Regions from separate parts of the Homo sapiens genome. Here region 2 is linked to region 1. The links come from fine-mapping of genetic effects on gene expression. A gene starts in region 1. The other region holds a variant in brackets. All regions are shown on one strand. Distances are between the middles of the regions. Region 1 holds the start of LBHD1 (LBH domain containing 1). Region 2 overlaps NXF1 (nuclear RNA export factor 1).

The links.
Region 2: its variant is fine-mapped to the expression of LBHD1 in B cells (Fairfax 2012, PIP 0.95).

What each region holds. Positions count from the first base shown.
Region 1 is chr11:62,666,535-62,677,717 of GRCh38, forward strand. It overlaps LBHD1 (LBH domain containing 1), which reads right to left and starts at 5,733. Exons shown (of 7, transcript NM_024099.5): 1 at 5,030-5,733; 2 at 3,348-3,507; 3 at 3,107-3,269; 4 at 989-1,213. The coding sequence starts at 3,497. It overlaps CSKMT (citrate synthase lysine methyltransferase), which reads left to right. Exons shown (of 3, transcript NM_001043229.2): 3 at 1-1,574. The coding sequence ends at 517. UQCC3 (ubiquinol-cytochrome c reductase complex assembly factor 3) reads left to right here and starts at 5,139. Exons shown (of 2, transcript NM_001085372.3): 1 at 5,139-5,331; 2 at 5,419-7,152. The coding sequence starts at 5,212. The coding sequence ends at 5,580. UBXN1 (UBX domain protein 1) reads right to left here. Exons shown (of 9, transcript NM_001286077.2): 7 at 10,984-11,100; 8 at 10,279-10,471; 9 at 9,966-10,105. The coding sequence ends at 10,056. RefSeq lists enhancers at 1-5, 3,823-4,564, 4,565-5,304, 5,305-6,046, 5,413-5,572 and 1 more and a silencer at 5,813-5,942.
Region 2 is chr11:62,795,807-62,805,330 of GRCh38, forward strand. It overlaps NXF1 (nuclear RNA export factor 1), which reads right to left. Exons shown (of 21, transcript NM_006362.5): 1 at 9,523-9,524; 2 at 7,986-8,172; 3 at 7,613-7,766; 4 at 6,371-6,454; 5 at 6,136-6,240; 6 at 5,933-6,013; 7 at 5,756-5,825; 8 at 5,523-5,611; 9 at 5,288-5,395; 10 at 4,571-4,680; 11 at 2,733-2,769; 12 at 1,512-1,580; 13 at 1,377-1,432; 14 at 654-761; 3 more. Among named protein-coding and RNA genes, the nearest start is that of NXF1, 4.9 kb to the right of the region's middle. RefSeq lists an enhancer at 9,427-9,524. The variant CT/C (reference allele first, on the strand shown) is at 4,799.

The DNA of each region.
Region 1 (11,183 bases):
GGAGGCACAGGCTGCCAGTCCTCTGCGAGTGCTGGATGTGGGCTGTGGGACTTCCAGCCTATGTACAGGCCTCTACACCAAATCTCCACACCCAGTGGATGTGCTGGGGGTGGACTTTTCTCCTGTGGCTGTGGCCCACATGAATAGCCTCCTGGAGGGTGGCCCAGGCCAAACACCTCTATGCCCTGGACACCCTGCCTCAAGCCTCCACTTCATGCACGCCGATGCTCAGAACCTGGGGGCTGTGGCTTCTTCAGGCTCTTTCCAACTACTGCTGGACAAAGGCACATGGGATGCTGTTGCCCGGGGAGGTCTGCCTAGGGCTTACCAGCTTCTATCAGAATGCTTGAGGGTTCTAAACCCTCAGGGGACCCTGATTCAGTTCTCAGATGAGGACCCTGATGTGCGACTGCCCTGCCTGGAACAAGGGTCCTATGGCTGGACTGTGACTGTGCAGGAGCTAGGCCCGTTCAGGGGCATCACCTACTTTGCTTACTTGATTCAAGGCTCTCATTAAAGACATTTTAGTAGTCCTGACCCTAGTATTTCTGTGGGCAAGGAGAGGGCTGAAGAACTGTCTTTGCAAGCTATCTGGCTGCAAAGTGAGAATTTGAGTCCTGGCTTCCACATTTACTAGCTGGGTGCCATATTGCTGAATGTTTCTGTTCCCCAGTTTACTCATCTGCAGAGTGAGAATAACTTGGAGTTACGGAGATTACATACAATGATGTGCGCAATATTTAGCACAAAATGAATGCTGAAAAGAGAAGGTACAATTGGGTCATTCCCCAGTTTCAACTAACTGGAGCTCCTAAAAGCAGCAGACAGGAACTGAATCAAAACCCCTGCGCTGACTGACTTGTATAATCTAGTGGCCTAACCTGTAAGCCTCATTTTTGTCACCTGTAAAAGGAGATTGTAAGAGGATGGGTATAAGGAGCTTCATAAACCTGGATGAGATATTTGAGGGGGAGGGAACAATACTTACCCTCAAAGCTATTAGGAGGCAGGAGATGGGAATATTCCACAAAGCCACTTCTACAAACACGGGAGCCTGTTGAGTCCCAGAAGGGACAGTGGTTGGTGGCTTCCAGACATGCTGTGTCCTCAAGAATCCAACAAGCATCTTCTTCATCCTGGTCCTGCCCCCAGCTGAGTCCAGCGTTAAATGTTCTTAAAGGACTTCTAGGGTCCTGTGGGCTCCAAGCCCAGCCTGGGATGGAGGAAGAGAGGGGACAAAAATATTACTGATATATTATCAAATTACAAAACTAGGCCAGGCATGCTGGCTCATACCTATAATCACAGCACTTTGGGAGGCCAAGGTGGGCAGATTGCTTGAGCCCTGGCAATAAAGTGACACCCCTAACTCTACAAAAACAAATGAGCCCGGGATAGTGGCACAGGCATGTAGTTCCAACTACTCAGGAGGCTGAGCTGGGAGGACTGCTTGAACCCTGGGAGGTCAAAGCTGCAATGGGCCATGATAAGCTGCTGCACTTGAGCTAAAAATTAATTTCTGTGGTATTTTTTGCTTATAAAAAAATAGAGCAATTATATCACTAAGAGCCTAACCTCGCAGCCTCAATTTTCTCATTTATAAAGGGGAAGTACCTTCATTGGGTTGTTCTGAAAATCATGAAGTAAAAGTGTTTAGCATAGTACCTGGTACATAGTAAATGCTCAAAAGAATGTAGCTTCTTGGGAGGCTGAGGCGGGCAGATTGCCTGAGCTCAGGAGTTTGAGACCAGCCTGGGCAATATGGTGAAACCCCATCTCTACTAAAATACAAAAAAAATTAGTCGGGCGTGGTGGCCTGAACCTGTAGCCCCAGCTACTCAGGAGGCTGAGGCAGGAGACTTGCTTGGACCTGGGAGGCAGAGGTTGCAGTAAGCCGAGATCCTGCCACTGCACTCCGCCTGGGCAACAGAGGGTGACTCTGTCTCAAAAAAAAAAAAAAAAAAAAAAGTAGCTTCTGTAACAGTACACAGACGGGGCCGGGCGCGGTGGCTCACGCCTGTAATCCCAGCACTTTGAGAGGCCCAGGCAGGCGGATCACAAGGTAAGGAGATCCTGGCGAACAAAGTGAAACCCTGTCTCTACTAAAAATACAAAAAAATTAGCTGGGCGTGGTGGCGGGTGCCTGTAGTCCCAGCTACTCGGGAGGCTGAGGCAGGAGAATGGCACGAACCCAGGAGGCAGGGCTTGCAGTGAGCAGAGGTCATTGCCACTGCACTCCAGCCTGGGGGACAGAGCAAGACTCTGTCTCAAAAAAAAAAACCAAAACCAAAACAAACAAACAAAAAAACAGTACACAGAGATGAAAAAAGTCTAGAAGAGAAGGTATCGAATATGTAAACTATTTTTAGGTAGTTGGTCTTGGGGTAATTTTTTTTGTTTTTTGTTTTTTTTGAGGCAGAATCTGGCTCTTGCCCAGGCTGGAGTGCAGTGGTGGGATCTCAGCTTACTGCAAACTCCACATCCCGGGTTCACGCCATTCTCCTGCCTCCCGAGTAGCTGGGACTACAGGCGCCCGCCACCACGCCCGGCTAATTTTTTGTATTTTTAGTAGAGACGGGGTTTCACCATGTTAGCCAGGATGGTCTCGATCTCCTGACCTTGTGATCTGCCCGCCTCAGCCTCCCAAAGTGCTGGGATTACAGGCGTGAGCCACCGCGGCCAGCCTTAATCTGTACTTTCAAAATGTTTACATTGCTGCAGGAAAAGATAAAATTACCCCAAGACTGGCCGGCTTGGGAGGCTGAGGCAGGAGAATGGCGTGAACCCAGGAGGCGGAGCTTGCAGTGAGCTGAGATCGCGCCACTGCACTCCAGTCTGGGTGACAGAGCGAGACTCAGTCTCAAAAAAAAAAAAAAGAAGAAAAAGAAAGTACAGATTAAAGGATGGCACCCATTCTGATACCAAAACTGCTCTCTACAATTCATCAACTTTGCCAGCTGCCTTTTCTCTCCCACATCTTCACATTTATTGAGCACCTGCTGTGTGCCTGGCACTGCTGAATGCAGGGGCCGTAACTGACTTCCATCTTGGCTCTGCCCAGAACATTCAGCTCACAGTGGCCCCCTGAATGAGCCACCTCCCTCACCTGGCTCTTCACTTTGGTCTTGGAAGAAGGCCTCAGCATCCTCTTCCTCACCATCAGTGAGCAGCAGCAGCTCCTCATGGGGCAAATGGAGATCCCCACTCTCTTCATTCACCTCACTGGATTCCACCACAATAGACGGCAGATGGGACTTTTGAGAGAAATCCTGAATAGGGACAGCAGGGAGGTTGGGCCAAACTGGAGGGTAAGCCAGCTGCCAGACACAGGCTGAGGAAGTACTAACCTGAATGTGCTGGTGACCTTCAACCTTGCCAATTTTTCCTCTGTCCCAGAGAGGGTTGGGCAGCCTGGGACTTTCTGGATGCTGGGAGGAGCCTGGGCTATTTCTAGTCCAAAGCCCATCCTCCTTGCTTCTCCCTGGCACAAGGGCCATGGTGGTGATTCTTAGAGTGCAAGATGATTGAACTCAGAGGAGAGTACTGCTGCCCAGTGCACCCCACAAACTGTTCCTTTAATCTTCTTTGGAGCCTGGCCCCTTAAGCACCGACTGTGCTAAGCGATTATACGCTTTCAGGGGAGGGGAAAATGCCCAAGAGGTGAGATAGGATCTTTATTTCTACTTACTCCCTGGAGACACTGGGATGGCAACAAGGGTAGGAGACAAGGGCACCTGGATTAAAGCCCTGTGGGCCAAGAGTTGTGATAACCAACTTGGAATTTCCTGACTCCTATGCTTACTGATTTTTCCCAACCTGGTATGTTTGTATGTTATTTAATGAATATTTATATGGTGTTTACTCTTTGGCAGGAGCTGTTTTAATTGCTTTACATATAACTAATTTAATTATCCTAAAACTGTGAGACAAGTACTGTTGTTATAAGCTTCATTTTCTGATGCAGAAACCGGGGCACAAGAACTTGCCTATAATCAGTCACACAGCTAAGAGGTGTTTTCTTCTGTAAAGCAGAATTCAGTATGTTACACGAATCCAGCCTTTTAGTGGTTGAAAACAAAGCAAAACAGCCGGGCGCGGTGGCTCACACCTGTAATCCCAGCACTTTGGGAGGCCGAGGTGGGCGGATTGGGCGGATCACGAGGTCAGGAGTTCGAGACCAGCCTGACCTACATAGTGAAACTCTTTCTCTACTAAAAATACAAAAAATTAGCCGGCCGTGGTGGCGGGCGCCTGTAGTCCCAGCTACTCGGGAGGCTGAGGCAGGAGAATGGCGTGAACCCGGGAGGCAGAGCTTGCAGTGAGCCGAGATCACGCCACTGCACTCCAGCTGGGCAACAGAGTGAGACTCTGTCTCAAAAAGCAAAAAAGAAAACGAAGCAAAACAAAAAGCAATACCAGCCGGGCGTGGTGGTGCACGCCTGTAATCCCAGCTATCCGGGAGGTTGAGGCAGGAGGATCGCTTGGGCCCTGGAAGTCGAGGCTTCAGTGAGCCATGATCGCGCCACTGCACTCCAGCCCTGGGCGACAGAGCGAGACCTTGTCTCCAAAAACAAACAAAACCACGCCCACACACTAACAACAACAACAAAACCAAAAAAAAACCCAAACAATACCAAGTGTGTACCATGACGAGAAAAGGAATAGGTTGTTTGTAAAATAAATGTTAAAGATAAGTAACTATTACCCATTTCTCCAACCAGTATACTTGACTTTGAGTGTTTGTTCCAGAGTTGAGGGGATGGAGAGGGATGTGTATGTGTGTAGATGCCCTCCATGCGCTGTGTTGAAAACGCGCGGGTGACTGCAGGAAACCACAGAGCACAGCTCGGGCCTCTACTGATCGGGAAACGTCGGAAGACAGAAAAATGGGCAATCATAAAACCCACGGCAACCATGAAGACACGCACTCTCCCCCTAGCAATCCCACCCCGGAATTGAGGACACAGGGTCCCCGCGCTCAGCCCTTGGTGCCAGCACTTCTTGGACACCTCAACCCCCTCAGCTAAACCTGAGATCCAAGCGCTCCGGATTCCAAACGTTTCCTCGAGCAGGTCCTCTCTAGCCGGCCGCTTATCTATGGTTTCTGCTATAGGGCGCTCTAGCCTGCGCCAAGGGGTAGTGAGACCGCGCGGCAACAGCTTGCGGCTGCGGGGAGCTCCCGTGGGCGCTCCGCTGGCTGTGCAGGCGGCCATGGATTCCTTGCGGAAAATGCTGATCTCAGTCGCAATGCTGGGCGCAGGGGCTGGCGTGGGCTACGCGCTCCTCGTTATCGTGACCCCGGGAGAGCGGCGGAAGCAGGAAATGCTAAAGGTAGAAGCAACTGGTAGTCCCGAGGAAGGGTGGGCGGGTGGAGAGCCCCGGACTGGAGCTCCTGCGAACTCCCCTTCCTGCCCTCAGGAGATGCCACTGCAGGACCCAAGGAGCAGGGAGGAGGCGGCCAGGACCCAGCAGCTATTGCTGGCCACTCTGCAGGAGGCAGCGACCACGCAGGAGAACGTGGCCTGGAGGAAGAACTGGATGGTTGGCGGCGAAGGCGGCGCCGGCGGGAGGTCACCGTGAGACCGGACTTGCCTCCGTGGGCGCCGGACCTTGGCTTGGGCGCAGGAATCCGAGGCAGCCTTTCTCCTTCGTGGGCCCAGCGGAGAGTCCGGACCGAGATACCATGCCAGGACTCTCCGGGGTCCTGTGAGCTGCCGTCGGGTGAGCACGTTTCCCCCAAACCCTGGACTGACTGCTTTAAGGTCCGCAAGGCGGGCCAGGGCCGAGACGCGAGTCGGATGTGGTGAACTGAAAGAACCAATAAAATCATGTTCCTCCACCCAGAATGAGCCCTGCAGTCGACACCTACCAATGCTTAGAGACGCGTGGTCGGTGCTGGGGGCGCGGCCTGGAGCTGCTGCCTGTCCCACCCCACCAGAAGAGGCTGATCCCGATAGGTATCTGACCACATTTTTTTTTTTTTTTTTTTTTTGAGACGGAGTCAATGTCACCCAGGCTGGAGTGCAGTGGCACGATCTCGGCTCACTGCAACCTCCGCCCCTGGGTTCCAGCAATTCTCCTGCCTCAGCTTCCCGAGTAGCCGGGATCACAAGTGCGCGCCACCAAGCCCAGCTAACTTTTGTGTTTTTAGTTGAGACAGGGTTCACCATGTTGGCTAGACTGGTCTCGAACTCCAGACCCAGGTGATCCGCCCGCCTCGGCCTCCCAAAGGGCTGGGATTACAGGCGTGAACCACCTCGCCCTGCCGCGGCCACATTTTTTCTTTTTTTTGAGATGGAGTCTTGCTCTTGTCACCCAGGCAGGAGTGCAGTGGCGCAATCTTGGCTCACTGCAACCTCTGCCTCCTGGGTTCAAGCTGTTCTCCTTACTCAGCCTCCCATGTAGCTGGGATTACAGGCGTCCGCAACCACGCCCGGCTGATATTAGTAGTTTTAGTAGAGGCGGGTTTCACCATGTGGCCAGGCTGATCTCGAACTCCTGACCTCAGGCAGTTCACCCGTCTCAGCCTCCCAAAGTGCTGGGATTAGAGGCGTGAGCCACTGCGCCCGGCCAACCACATTTTCAAAACAGGTCATGTGGTGTCAGGTTGGAGTGTACTTCCAGGGATAACCGTGGGACATTCTTGAAATCTGAACTATCCTGGGAAGTCTTGAAGTAATGGATGCCTATAGTGGACACTCAGGACTCCTGTCCTTGGAGCGAGATTGGAGGGGCATCTAGCACTTAACATATGCCACAATGCTTTCTGTGGCCATTATTTAACCTCTGGTTAAACAAGCTTAGGAGGCTGACTTACTAGTAGTAAAAGGAGTGTGCTTTGAGTCACAGATCCTGGTTGAACTCCAGCATGTTACAAACCTCAGCCCTGTTCTATGAAAGGTCATAACTACGAGGATTATTGTAAAACATTAATTTAGAAATGTAAAGTGGTCCCCAATCTCTGGATCTGGTCAGGATTTATTGGAGCTGCCACTGAGGGGATTAAATAAGTGGGGTCAAAGCCCCACAGCCTAGTCAACCAAGTTGCTCCTCTTTTGTCTATCCTGTGGTTCCCAAGCAAGACTGCAATTGAAAAAAAGGCTGCTGTTATTAAAGTCAGAACACCAAATAAAGCTTTTTTTTTTTTTTTGAGACAGAATTTCTGTGTTGTTGCCCACGCTGGAGTGCAATGGAGCGATCTCAACTCAATGCAACCTCCGCCTCCTGGGTTCAAGCGATTCTCCTGCCTCAGCCTCTCCAGTAGCTGGGACTACAGGGGTGCGCCACTATGCCAGGATAATCTTTGTATTTTTAGTAGATACAGGGTTTCACCATGTTGGCCAGGCTGGTCTTGAACTCCTGACCTCAGGTGATCTGCCCGCCTCAACCTCCCAAAGTGCTGGGATTACAAGCATGACCCGCCGTGCCTGGCCCAAATAAAGCTTTCTAACACTGGGGTGTAAACCCAGATATAAGTATTGGTGCTCTTTTCAGCTGCTGGAACACATGTTACATGTGATCTTTACAGAGTAACTGTGGCCTTTCTCCTAGTCCAGGAAGGAGTGGAGTCAGGAGCAGTTTGACAGGACAGCAGGGTGGGGTGATCAGCAGCCAGAGGGACTATCATAGATAAGCTCATCAGTGCTTCTTGGTTGGTTTTAAAAAGCAGAGAGAAGCGCCAACATGGTGAGACCCTGTATCTACTAAAAATACAAAAATTAGCTGGGCATGGCGGCACGTGCCTGTGGTCCCAGCTACTCGGGAGGCTGAGGCAGGAGAATCGCTTGAACTCAGGAGGCAGAGGTTACGGTGAGCCGAGATCGTGCCACTGCACTCCAGCCTGGGTAACAGAGTGAGGAGATGTCTCAAAAAAAAAAAACAAAAAAACAAAACCCTTTTAGCCCAGCATTTTGGGAGGCTGAGACAGGTGGATCTTGAGGTCAGGAGTTCAAGACCAGCCTGGCCAACATGGTGAAACCCCATCTCTACTAAAAAATACAAAGAATTAGCTGGGTGTGGTGGCACACACCTGCAATCCCAGCTACTCGAGAGGCTGAGGCAGAATTGCTTGAACCCGGCAGACGTTGGTTATAATGAGCCGAGATTGCACCACTGTACTACAGCCTGGGATCTAGAGCAAGACTCCACCTCAAATAAGTAAATAAAATTATCCTTTTAGTAGCTAATGCTTACTGGGGACTTATTAGGTACCAGGCACTATGCTAAAGCATCTTATACCAGCATTATGTAACCCTCATGACAATCCCAAGAAATAGGCACTATTCCTATTCTATTAAGAAGCTAGGTTTTCTGGGTGAGATGTGAAATAACTTAAATGACATCACTAAGGTAGCAAAGCTGAAGGAAAAGTATAAGAAGGATGTTCCTGACTATAAGTAGAAAGGTTGGTTTGATGATGCAAAGGGTCCTGCTAAAGTTGCCTGGAAAAAGGTGGAAGAGGAAGATGAAGAGGAGGAGGATGAATAAAGAAACTGTTTATCTGGCCAGGCACAGTGGCTCAAGACTGTAATCCCAGCACTTTGGGAGGCAGAGGCGGGCGGATCATCTGAGGTCAGGAGTTCAAGACCAACCTGACCAACAAGGTGAAACCCTGTCTCTTAAAAAAAAAAAAAAAAAAAAATTAGCTGGGCGTGGTGGTGCATGCCTGTAACCCCACCTACTCAGGAGGCTAAGGCAGGAGAATCGCTTGAACCCGGGAGGTGGAGGTTGCAGTGAGCTGAGATCGCTCCATTGCACTCCAGCCTGGGCAACAAAAGCAAAACTCCATCTCAAAGGAAAAAAAAAAAGAAACTGTTTATCTGCCTCCTTGTGAGTACCTTAAGAGTAGGGGAGCCCCGTAATGGACACATCTCTTATTTGAGAAGTGCCTGTTGTCCTCATTAGGTTTAATTACAAAATTTGATCATGATATTGTATAGTCTCTCAAAGTACTCTAAAAATTGTCAGTGGTGGCCGGGCGTGGTGGCTCACGCCTGTAATCCTAGCACTTTGGGAGGCCGAGGCGGGTGGATCACTTGAGGTCAGGAGTTTGAAACCAGCTTGGCCATCATGGTGAAACGCTGACTCTACTAAAAATACAAAAAATTAGCTGGGCATGGTGGTGCGCGCCTGTAATCCCAGATACTTGGGAGGCTGAGGCAGAAGAATCCCGTGAACTCAGGAGGCGGAGGTTGCAGTGAGCCAATACTGTGCCACTGCACTCCAGCTTGGGTGACAGAGCAAGACTCCATTTCAAAAAAAAAAAAAAAAAAGAAATTCTCAGTGGTTTACATGAAGTGGCCATGGGTGTCTGGAGCACCCCAAAGCTGTATCAAAGTTGTGCATATTTCCAAACATTTTTAAAATGAAAAGGCACTCTCATGTTCTCAATAAATAAATAAATAAATAAATAAATAAAGCAGCAGGCCGGGCGTGGTGGCTCATGCCTGTAATCCCAGCACTTTGGGAGGCCAAGGCAGGCGAATCACAAGGTCAGGAGTTTGAGACCAGCCTAGCCAACATGGCAAAACCCCGTCTCTACTAAAAATGGAAAAAATTAGCTGGGCGTGGTGGTGGGTGCCTGTAATCCCAGCTACTAGGGAGGCTGAGGCAGGAGAATCGCTTGAACCTGGGAGGCAGAGGTTGCAGTGAGCTGAGATTGCGCCACTGCACTCTAGCCCAGGCAACAGTGCAAGACTCCGTCTCAAAAATAAAAATAAAAAAGCAGCAGCTGGGCTTTTATTTTCTGTCTTACCATAGGAGTAAAAGGTGCCATCCAATGTACTCTCCACCCCTTTTAGCACCTCTCCTCCGCAACTTCCCCAGCAGTTAATCAGACCCAGAGATTACAAACAAGTGTCTTTGTTGGAAACTAAAGATGAGGAAGAGGGTCTACTGTTCCGTTTTAGCCTCTTCCTCTGCCTTAGTTTTGTCCCTCCCAGCCATTCAGGAAGGAGTCAGGCATGTACAGAACTCAGGGTCTATTTATTAGGAAGGAGATGTCAGTGCTTTATCAAAGATGAAGGGGTCACAGAGGGACAATGGGACAAAGGCCCTCAGCTGGGACATTTCTTGGCCACAATGAGAACAGCAGAAGGCACGAGTCCTGAAGATGGAAGAAAACAGGCTTGAACCACAAGGATACTTGGTTTTTGCTCCCAAAATTCCTGGCCTTGCACCATGTTCACAAAGCCCCTTCTCTTTGCATCCCTCCTTTTCCTAGGCATGCCTCCCTACTCCCCCAGTTTCTAGTCCTGGTTTCTAGTCTTGCAGCCATACCCAGCTCCTGCAGAGGCCGCTCCATGTCAGCTTCTGAGAAGGCCCGTCTGGGGAAGCCACTGAGCAATTGCACAGGGTCCTGGCCCCCACCTAGTTCCTCCCCACGGTGGAGCTCCACATAGAGCCTCACAGCTGCCAGCTGTTCCCGGGCCCGGAACGTCTGGGTCAGTGAGGTCCCATCTGGCAGCCTGACCTAAAGGGCAAGGGAGATACTCAGTATTGTGGGCATCAAAACTGAATGAGGTGCCCAAGTAAGGAAAAGAGCTAAAGCTGGGCCCCCTTCTTCTTAGATTGAACCAGCACAACTACTATTTAAAGCACCAAATGAACAGCCACTTAGGCTCCGCTTTACTAAGTGCGGATGAGAGACTCCCAGCTCCCTCACAACCTAAGAAAGACAAGGATAAGATTATACAAAAGAATCTGGATAAATACCACATCACCAGATAGCTACATAATAAACCAAATAAAAACATGAACAAGTAAAAGGGTAACTGCTGAGTAAGAGAGAGGTATGGGTTTAAATACAACTGGGGCAGGTGAAATTTGATACCTTTCCCAAGAGTAGAGATAGGATTTCAAAAGTCATTTACAAAGAAGGGAGAGATTTGGCAAAGGGCACGTTAACTGAAAAAAGCTCTGAGCTGGGCACCTTAACACGGAACAAAGGGGTCCCAAGAGGAAGATAAGAATTAGAATCAGTACCTGTATGCGACACTGGTCATACTCCCGCTTGGTGGGAGGCTCCTGGCTGGGAGAAGAGGGAACAGGACCTGGCTCTGGTGCCACTGGGGGTGGCTGAGAGCCCACACTGCCACCATACTAAAGGGCAAAGTAAAACAGTCAATCAGGTACTCACCCATCCTCAGGTGAAACAGATCATATAAGCCCATGCTTTCCCTCTG
Region 2 (9,524 bases), 130 kb after region 1:
GGGAGAGAAAGTAGCTGGGAAGCTAAGAGTGCTGAGGAAAATTCCAGCTGGGGGTGGGACCACGCTACAAACTCGGGACTCTAAAGATTCTTACCTTCCTTGAAGACTCCATTGACAGAAAAACACAGCAATGTGCTCTGAAAGAGAAGCAGCATCAGGTACAATGTACACTTCTCAGAGCCTGAGTGCCCCCCCTTGCCTATTAAATGCCACCCCCACCCCAATTCTAGGCTTCTGTCAGGCGCAAGCAGGAGCTTACTGTCTGGGCGCTTATGTCTACCACGAAGGAATTGACGTCGTGCTGGGTTTTGGGCAACTCATTGAGGAAGGCAACAACGTTGAGACGCGTGTGCTTCAGCAGCCGGAACCGCAAGGCTGTGGGTAGAGGAGAAAGCTCAGTGGTGCTGCCACACACTCCTGAGTTCTGACTGATTCCTTCCCATGCCCTTTTCCCATATTTTGTTCGTATCACACACTTACTAGGGTCTTTAAGCTTCTTCACATTTCTGCTATCCTTGAAATACTCGGCTAAGCTGCTTCTGGGGGAATAAAAGGAATGGACGTGGTGTTCAGAGCAGTGCTGCCAGCAGGTGTGCCCTGTATCTGCTGGGAAACCCAGTGGTCCCGGGCAGATTCTGGGATGTGATACTAACCGGGCAGGGTTCTGAGGAATGAAAGGAATGCTCAGGGAACAGCAGGCCCCATCATGGTAGGCATCCAGGAGCCCTTGTCGGTCTCCAGAGTCGTAAATTGCATAGTACCTATGGGAAAAACAAAAAAGAAAGTATGGGCTCTGTGGTCTACAGCCATACAAGGACCCAGTAGCTCCCAAGAGTGAGTTGTGGCCGGGCATGGAAGCTCATGCCTGTAATCCCAGCACTTTGGGAGGCTGAGATGGGTGAATAGCTTGAGCCCAGGAGTTCAAGACCAGCCTGGGCAACATGGCGAAACCCTGTCTCTACTAAAAATACAAAAAAAATGGCTAGGTGCGGTGGCTCACGCCTCTAATCCCAACACTTTGGGAGGAAGAGGCAGGTGGATCATGAGGTCAGGAGTTGGAGACCAGCCTGGCCAACATAGTGAAATCCCATCTGTACGAAAAATACAAAAATTAGCCAGGTGCAGTGGCACACACCTGTAGTCCCAGCTACTGGGGAGGCTGAGGCAGGAGAATCACTTGAACCCTGGGAGGCAGAGGTTGCAGTGAGCCAAGATCACACCATTGCACTCCAGCCTGGGTGACACAGTGAGACACTGTCCAAAAAAAAAAAAAAAAACAAAACAAAAAACAAAACAAAAAGATTGATGTGTGCCTGGGTCTGCCCACCATTCCCCCTCAACCTCGGGGTGGGGAGGGGGGACCCTGGGATACTTACTGTTGCAGGAAGTGCAAGACCAGACTCTTCAAGTTTTCTGTTCCAAAATAGCTTCCCTGAAATCAAACAGGTATTAGGAACATGGAAGCAGTATTCTCTCCACACACAAGTTCTTACTCTGTCCATGCTTCCTACCTTGCAGGGCGGTAACGTCGTGGGGGCTTCAACATCAAAGGCAATTGGTGGGGGTAGCTCATGGCCATCCTGTGGAAAGGAAGTAAAAGTTGACAGTGTAGACTGGGCCCAGTGGCTCACACCTGTGATCCCAGAACTTTGGGAGGCCGAGGCAGGCAGATGGCTTGAGCTCAGGAGTTTGAGACCAGCCTGGCTGGACAACGTGGCAAAACCCATCTCTACCAAAAAAAATACAAAAATTAGCTGGGCATGGTGGTGCGTGCCTGGAGTCCTAGCTACTTGGGAGGCTGAAGTGGGAGGATCACTTGAGCCTGGCAGGCGAAGGTTGCAGTAAGCTACGATTGTGCCACTGCACTCCAGCCTGGATGACAGAGCCAGACCCTGTCTCAAAAAACAAAACAAACAAAAAAGAAAGTTGACAGTTTAAACCAGAGAGAAAAAGGCTGGGTGCATAAGTAGACTGAAGAACTAAGAGAGAAGGGTCAGAAGTCAAGTGTAAACGCATCATGAAAAGTATCCAGGGATCCAGGCTGGGCGCAGTGGCTCACACCTGTAATCCCAGCACACTGGGAGGCCAAGGTGGATGGATTAGTTGAGGTCAGGAGTTCAAGACCATCCTGGCCAACAAGATGAAACCCCCATCTCTACTAAAAATACACAAAGAAATTAGCCGGGCATTGTGGCACATGCCTGTAATCCCAGCTACTCAGGAGGCTGAGGCAGGAGAATCACTTGAACCCAGGAGGCAAACGGTGCAGTGAGTCAAGATTGCACCACTGCACTCTGGGTAACAGAGCAAGACTCCATCCAAAAAAAAAAAAAAAAAGGGCCTGGTGCGAGTGGCTCACGTCTGTAATCCCAGCACTTTGGGAGGCCGAGGTAGGTGGATCACCTGAGGTCAGGAATTCAAGGCCAGCCTGGCGAACATGGTGAAACCCTGTCTCTACTAAAAATACAAAAATTAGCCAGGTGTGGTAGCACATGCCTGTAATCCCAGCTACTTGGGCTCAGGAGGCTGAGGCAGGAGAATCGCTTGAACCTGGGAGGCAGAGGTTGCGGTGAGCTGAAATCATGCTGTTGCACTCCAGCCTGGGCGACGAGTGAAACTCCGTCTCAAATAAAAAAAAAAAAAAGAAAAAGAAAAAGAAAAAGAAACCTATCCAGGAATCCTTGTGAGTGAGAGATGCTGTGCTTGTTAGAATGAAAAAATTATGGACTTACCAGGCGTAGTAACTTGGGAAATCGTTCGCGAATGGCGCTGTCAAGAACGGGACAGAAGTGAGTGATGCTTCAGAGCCACCGTGCCTCCTGGGCTGCTCTAGGAGCAAATATACCAAACCCGAGGGACAGCCCATCCCATCCTGCTCATCCCTCCACTCCCTCCCAGCCTGTGCTCAGGGAAAAATGGCCCCCACTCCCCACCTGACCCGGGGCACCCAGACATGGACTGCCTTGAAGGCTGTCTCTTTTCTCTCTGCCTGACCCTGAGTGTCAAGGAGCAGTACTCCAAGCCCAGGCTTTAAGCCCAGGACCTCTTTCCCCTCCCTGCCCCCCTTACCTTCCACCTACTCACCTGTGCAGCCCCGGGAGGAGGGAATGGGGTGGGAGCCCAGGGGCTCCGCTGCCTCACCAGGTATCCATCAGTTCTGCCAGGTCTGGCTTTGGCCAAGACCCAAACACACCACAGGGATGGCACAGGATGTTGGGGCAGGGAGATGAGCAGGTGGGGCTCAGGAAGAGGAGAGGCAAAGGAATAAGAAAGGAAAAGGAGGAAAAAGAGAAAAAGGCAAGATGGGGCAGGGGCAAGGGAGAGATGGGGAGGTATAGGAGACAGACAGAAAAAGGAAAGAGAAAGCAAAGAAAAAGAGAAAGAACTACAAGGCAAAAAAGCATCTAGAAAAATGAGGGAGAAAAGGGAGAAAGACACCCTGACACAGCCCTTTCTTTCAGCTGCCCCATCCCTGTGGTCCAAGGTAGAAATGAGAAACAAATCCTTGCTGTGGTGAGTGGGCACTTGCTGTTGGCCAGGTCTCTGTCTGCTACCTGGGTCCCGATCTGAACTGGGCGTGGGAAGCAAAGCAGCCATGGGGGCAGGAGACCTCCCTCAGAAGGTGTGAGGGTTCAGGCCCCTGTAGGATTGTGGGGGTGAGGGTCCATGCCCCACCTCTGTTGCCCCCAAGTTCTCTCCTGATGGCCCCTCTGCGACTGTGCCTGTCTTAGGTTGTTCCTTCCCTGAGGAATCTTACCCGTCTCTGGCTAACCAGCCATCCACCGGGGCCAAACAGGGTGACGTGCAGTGTGTGAGTGAGGGAGAGGCAGCGCCCCCGAGGGGGTCAGTTCTCTGTCTCCTTGGTAGCCTATGCCCCCGTGGCCTCCACGCCCAGCACCTGCCTTGGGATTCCCTCGCCTGCTGGCGGGGCCCCAGCTCTGGTCACATCTTGGGGAACCCAGGTTTCTTCTTCAGGGAGAGCCCAGCTCATAGCACTGGGCAAGAGAGACAGATTGCATGCCACCAGCCCCTAGGAGGCCTCAACCTCAGCATGGACAGCAACAGCCCTGGGCAAGTGGATCCTGAGAAAAGGGTCCCTCTTGGCGCAAGGGCAAGAGGGGCCATCACAGTACAAAGGAGGGAAGGCCCATCTCAGTAGGAAGTCCCAGGTAGGGAGGGCTTCCTCAACCCATGGACACCAGGCTCTTGGCACAAGGCAACCCCATCTATAGGGTATGTACAAGATACCCTCTGGTTAGAGTAGAAAGGGGAGATGCCTTTCCTGGAACAACAGGGTAGGGAGATTCTAGAAAAGGTTGTGTTCAGGAAGAAAGAGAAAGGCCACAGACCCAGCAAACAGATAGTCAAGTCAGAAGAGAAGAGAGAACATCTCAGGACAAAGCTGGAAGACACAGACAGACCAAAGTGGGGAGCACGCGATCCTCTCAAAGGACAGGTGGTTCCAGCTCAGGGCTGCACATCTCCGCAGACGGGCCCTGGTCAGGATGCATTAGCTCAGCCTCCCAGGGGGTGAAGGTCCCCAGGAGGGGAGACACAGGCTACAACTGACCTGATGTAGGTGGACTGGTCTCGGAAGGTGTCACACAGGGAGTTTCCATCGAGCCAGAGCTCTTCTAGCTTCAGCCCCTTTATCTTGTCCAATTCCCGCTCAGACTTCAACTGCAAAGGGTGGAAGGAACAAAGGGAGGAGACCCTGGTGAAGACAGCCAGCTGGCTCCCCATACCCCCAGTCCCTACGCTTAGCTCTGAGATCTTTTCTAATCTTTTAAAATTTTTT[CT/C]TTTTTTTTTTTTTTTGGGACAGGGTCTCACTCTGTCACCCAAGTTCAGTGCCGTGGCATGATCATAGTTCACTGCAGCCTCAAACTCCTGGACTCAAGAGATCCTCCCACCTCAGACTCCTGGGTAGCTAGGACTACAGGCATGTGACATCATGCTCGACTAATTTATTTTTTAAATTAAAAAAATTTTTTTGAGACAGGTTGCTCAGGCTAGAATGCAACGGCACAATCATAACTCACTGCAGCCTTGAACTCCTGAGCTCAAGCAATCCTCCCACCTCAGCCCCCTGGGGCAGCTTGGACTAGAGGCGTGCAAACTCCTAGCCTTAAGTGATCCTCCTGCCTTGGCCTCCCAAAGTGTTAGGATTAGAGTTGCAAACCAGCACATCTGGCCTGAGTTCTCTCTCTTGCCTCTTGCCATCACTGGACAAACTCTCTACACCCTCTACCCACCCCTTCAAAAATATAGCCGAGCTATCAATTCTCACTTCATTTCCAGAAAGGTTTAGGATCTTCAGGTTGGGTGCCTTCTGAACAATGCTAGACATGTCATCCAGCCTGTACAGCCTGTTGTTGCTCAAGTTCAAGGACAATAGCTGTGAGGAGAGAAGAGTTTAGAGGAGGCACCACCAGCAAGTGGATCAGAGACGAATCTGCCCTCCAGCCACTTCCTATCTAACACACCCTGCTTCCTCATGCCTAATACTGGGCCAAAGGCCTTACCTCAGGGATGTTCTCTTCAATGATCCTCAGGGTAGCTGCCATACAGCTTCTGCGATTCAGGACAACGTCAATGTTCTGGGCCACCAAATCTTCAGGAAGCAGAAGGGAAGGAAAGGGAAGACTGAGAGGGTTTGCCCATGCCAGCATTAGCAGTAAAACATCCTCAAACTTTCCCTCCCTGACAGATCCCACCTTATCACCACCTATCTGAGAACTACTGCTGTCAACCATACCTGGGTCTGAACGGAGGCCTTTGAGGTCAAGGGCTTGTTGGGAGCCATCGTATCGTTTGCTCATGATCAGCTAGAGGAAAAAGAAGGGTTTAGTGGTCACTGGGTTTGTGTGTGGGGGGTGGGGGTGTGAGAAGTAGTAAGACTGGGTTGGAAACATCTAATTTGAGCCTGCCTCACCTTTAGCTGTTCTACTTGTTCTGGCTTCAGTTCATTCAGTATAGTGTGGGGTGGAGCAGAAGAGTTGATGATGATAGATATCTGGAGGGAAGACACAGAGGGCACAGAAAACTCTAGGGAAGCCTAAGCCGCAAGAACAAGACCCAGTCCCTGCTCTGAGCACCAACCTCCACCTCCAGCCAAGCCAGGCCCTTTAAACACACCCTTCGGTTCTCCCGATCCAAAATCTTATAGTTGACAGCCTTCAATGCAGAGGCAGTACTGGCGTCTTCAACGAAGAACTGGGCCCGTGTATTCTCATAGTGAAACTACAAGAGGAAACAGGAGCATTACACTGGGAGTCCAGAGCCCTTGGGGAGGGGCATTACGCTGGGAGTCCAGCTTGCCCCTTCACCATCCCTGGTGCCTGGCCAGCCAGCCACTCAGGCCTTGTCTTACCTCAATAGGGGTGAAGGGCACACTGCACTTGCTCTGAATCATGCTCAGGAGCCATGCCTTGTCATACTTTCTGCCATAAGGAATCTAGAAATGAGAGAAAGAGAAAAGAAGGGAATGATAAGTAAGGCTGAATAGCAGACCCAATACAATGCCTTTTATACCTTCTACCAAACTTTTAAAGACTATCTAAAGAAAGGACCAGTACTAGGTTTTCTACTTGAGATACACATAGATTCTTTAACTCCTTTCTGTCTACTTACACTTACTATTTTTTCTTAGTAACAGGGCCTCACTCTGTCACTCAGGCTGGAGTGCAGTGGTGCGATCATAGCTCACTGCAGCCTTCATTTCCTAGGCTCAAGCGATCCTCCTGTCTCAGCTTTCTGGAGTAGCTAGGACTACAGGCATGTACTACCATGCCCGGCTAATTTTAAAATTTTCTGTAGAGAAGGGGTCTTGCTGTATTTCCCAGACTGGTCTTGAACTCCCAGCCTCAAGTGATCCTCCACCTCGGCCTCTCAAAGTGCTGGGATTACAGGCATGAGCCACTGTACCCAGCCCATTTACACTTATAATCTCTCAAAAAAAAATCAATTTTATTTATTCTAAAAGTTCCAAGATATTATTTACACCTTGCCTGCCCCTCAGAGAACTCCAGGGCACTCCAGGGACTCCAAGCCCCACACTCAGCCTGAGCCAAATGAAGACATCCAGAGGAATTACTCCCTCCCCCAACCAAAATTTTCATATTTCTCTTCCACCCCTTCTCTGAACCTGCTCTAAGGTGTTGGAAGATACTGATTCCTAGGAGAAAAGATAGATACTTGAGTGTGGAGTAATCAGATGACAAGGAGAATTTTTGGGCTGGGTGCGGTGGCTCATGCCTATAATCCCAGCACTTTGGGGGGCCAAGGCGGGCAGATCATGACGTCAGGAGTTCGAGACCAGCCTGGCCAATACAGTGAAACCCCGTCTCTACTAAAAATACAAAAATTAGCCGGGCGTGGTGGTGGGTGTCTGTAGTCCCAGCTACTCGGGAGACTGAGGCAGAATAGCTTGAACCCGGGAGGCGGAGGCTGCAGTGAGCCGAGATCACGCCACTGTACTCCAGCCTGGGTGACAGAGCAAGACTCCATTTAAAAAAAATAATAATAATAATTTTTGTGGAATAAAATTAAACATCTCCACTCTCAGCGTGGCCTCCTATCTCTACTGTACCATCTACTTTCTCAAAGTACTCACTGTAATCTTGAACCAGTTCTTTGAGGTCCCATCCTGGCTGGTGCCAGCCCCTCCTCTCTCTGGAGGAGCTCTGTCTCTCCGCACAGTAACATGAATGCGATCTCGATCATGCCAAGTATCACCCCGACGGTTAGGTCGGGTGGTATAGGGGTTGCTGTGGGTAAGCAGAGAATAAAATGACCACAAATGCTAGGAAAGTCTTCTCAAAGGCCTTCCTGCACTGTTAGTGGGACTACAACTAAGACTGTTTAATCACTAAGCTAGTCCTGGCATTTCTCACTCTAACAGGTGGGAAAGGAAATGACATGGACAGTAAAAGGGCCATATAATCTCATGAGCCACTAAATTCAAACCAGACCAACTGGTCACTCACTATCGTACTCGGGGACCATCCTGGGCATCACTCATTGCCACATCTCCATCATCTTCCTCAAGGCGGGAAGACCGAATACCAGAACCGCCTCTTCCAGACCTACGGTTTCCTTCACCATATTTCCACCGGAAGGGACCCCGGCCTTTCTTCTTTCTTTGAGGGAAATTAACGCGTTCATCATCGTGTTCTAGAGTTAGAAACAGGAACACAAATTAGAAGTAAGTAACTGGTCCGGTTTGGTGTGGCAATCATAGCTTCTAGTACTCTGAACTATTGGAAGAGATACATACTAACGACAGAGGCCATCTCCATGCAAACTCCGCTCCCTATCCACAGGAAAGAACCCTCTCTGTGGGAGGGCAGCATCAGGGAAAAGTTACTGGAAAACTGTGTAGGGCTTTTGAAAAATGAAGTAGAAACTGGAATTAGAGAGAAGCAGGATGTAGAAATGTGAGACCCAAAAGTGTAACTGAACACAAATCAGACCTCTGAAAGCCACCTGAAATCTGCCACTCAGTACTTTGTCTATACAGTGCAGACGCCAGTTACAAATATGACCAGTTTAAGGATCCTCTAAAAATTCTCCTTGTTCTCAAACTGCCACTTTGAAGTTTTGTGAGGAGCTCTTCGTTTCCATGGCCAGAAATGTCCTTTAACTCAGGAGACAAATTCTAGACTCAGGCTCTAGTGGCAGTGCCAGGCTAGGGTGCTTAACCAGGGACCCTGGAATGCTCTCCAGGAAGATGACCTTCTGATTCATGCTGTGTAGGACTGGCGTCTTAAAAAAGGTCCCTAACTCCCAAAAGAGGTCTGCCTAATACCCAGCACTCTGTAAACAATGAATCTCAACAAATGACCCTAGGAAAAAAGAACATAGAAGGCGCAGCTAACATTCACTGAGAACTTTCTCCAGTGCCGGCCACTATGCTTCAGGCACTTGATAGGAATGATCTCATTTCCCCTCCCCACACACACTCTTAAGAAATGCTGTTGTTATTCCACATTAAGGGGGTGGAAAACGAGAGTTTTAAATTCACGGTTTCAACCTCCACCACGCACTCCTAACTTACTACAAAGAACTAACACCCAGTGTAGTGTTCAGACTAGAATATCCAGTTGATGTGTAAGTCTCGAATATTAAGCCAAAGCCCAGGCCCGAGAGTTCAAGACCGACTGGACGCAGTAAAAAATAGGGCATCAGGGCAGCCCACGAGCAGGGCACTCACTCACATTAAAGGAAGAGTCAGGCCGCCAAACCTAACTGACAGGCATCAACCACCCACAAAGTTCAAAGGAATCCCGTCACCCTACCCCCGAGCCATCCGCTCCGAGCCGCAGGTCCCCCAACACCAGGATGCCAGCAGGAATCCAGGAGTCAACAACTCGGGTGTCCACCTCGAGTGCCCGGCCCCCCGCGCGCCGCTCCCCGCGGACGCCGGGCCCCTAGCGGCCTCACGCCCCGGGGGCTGAGGCCTAGGCCGGCGCCGCCCACCCGCGCCCCAGATAGCCAGTTCCCGACCCGAAGACCAGCACTTACCG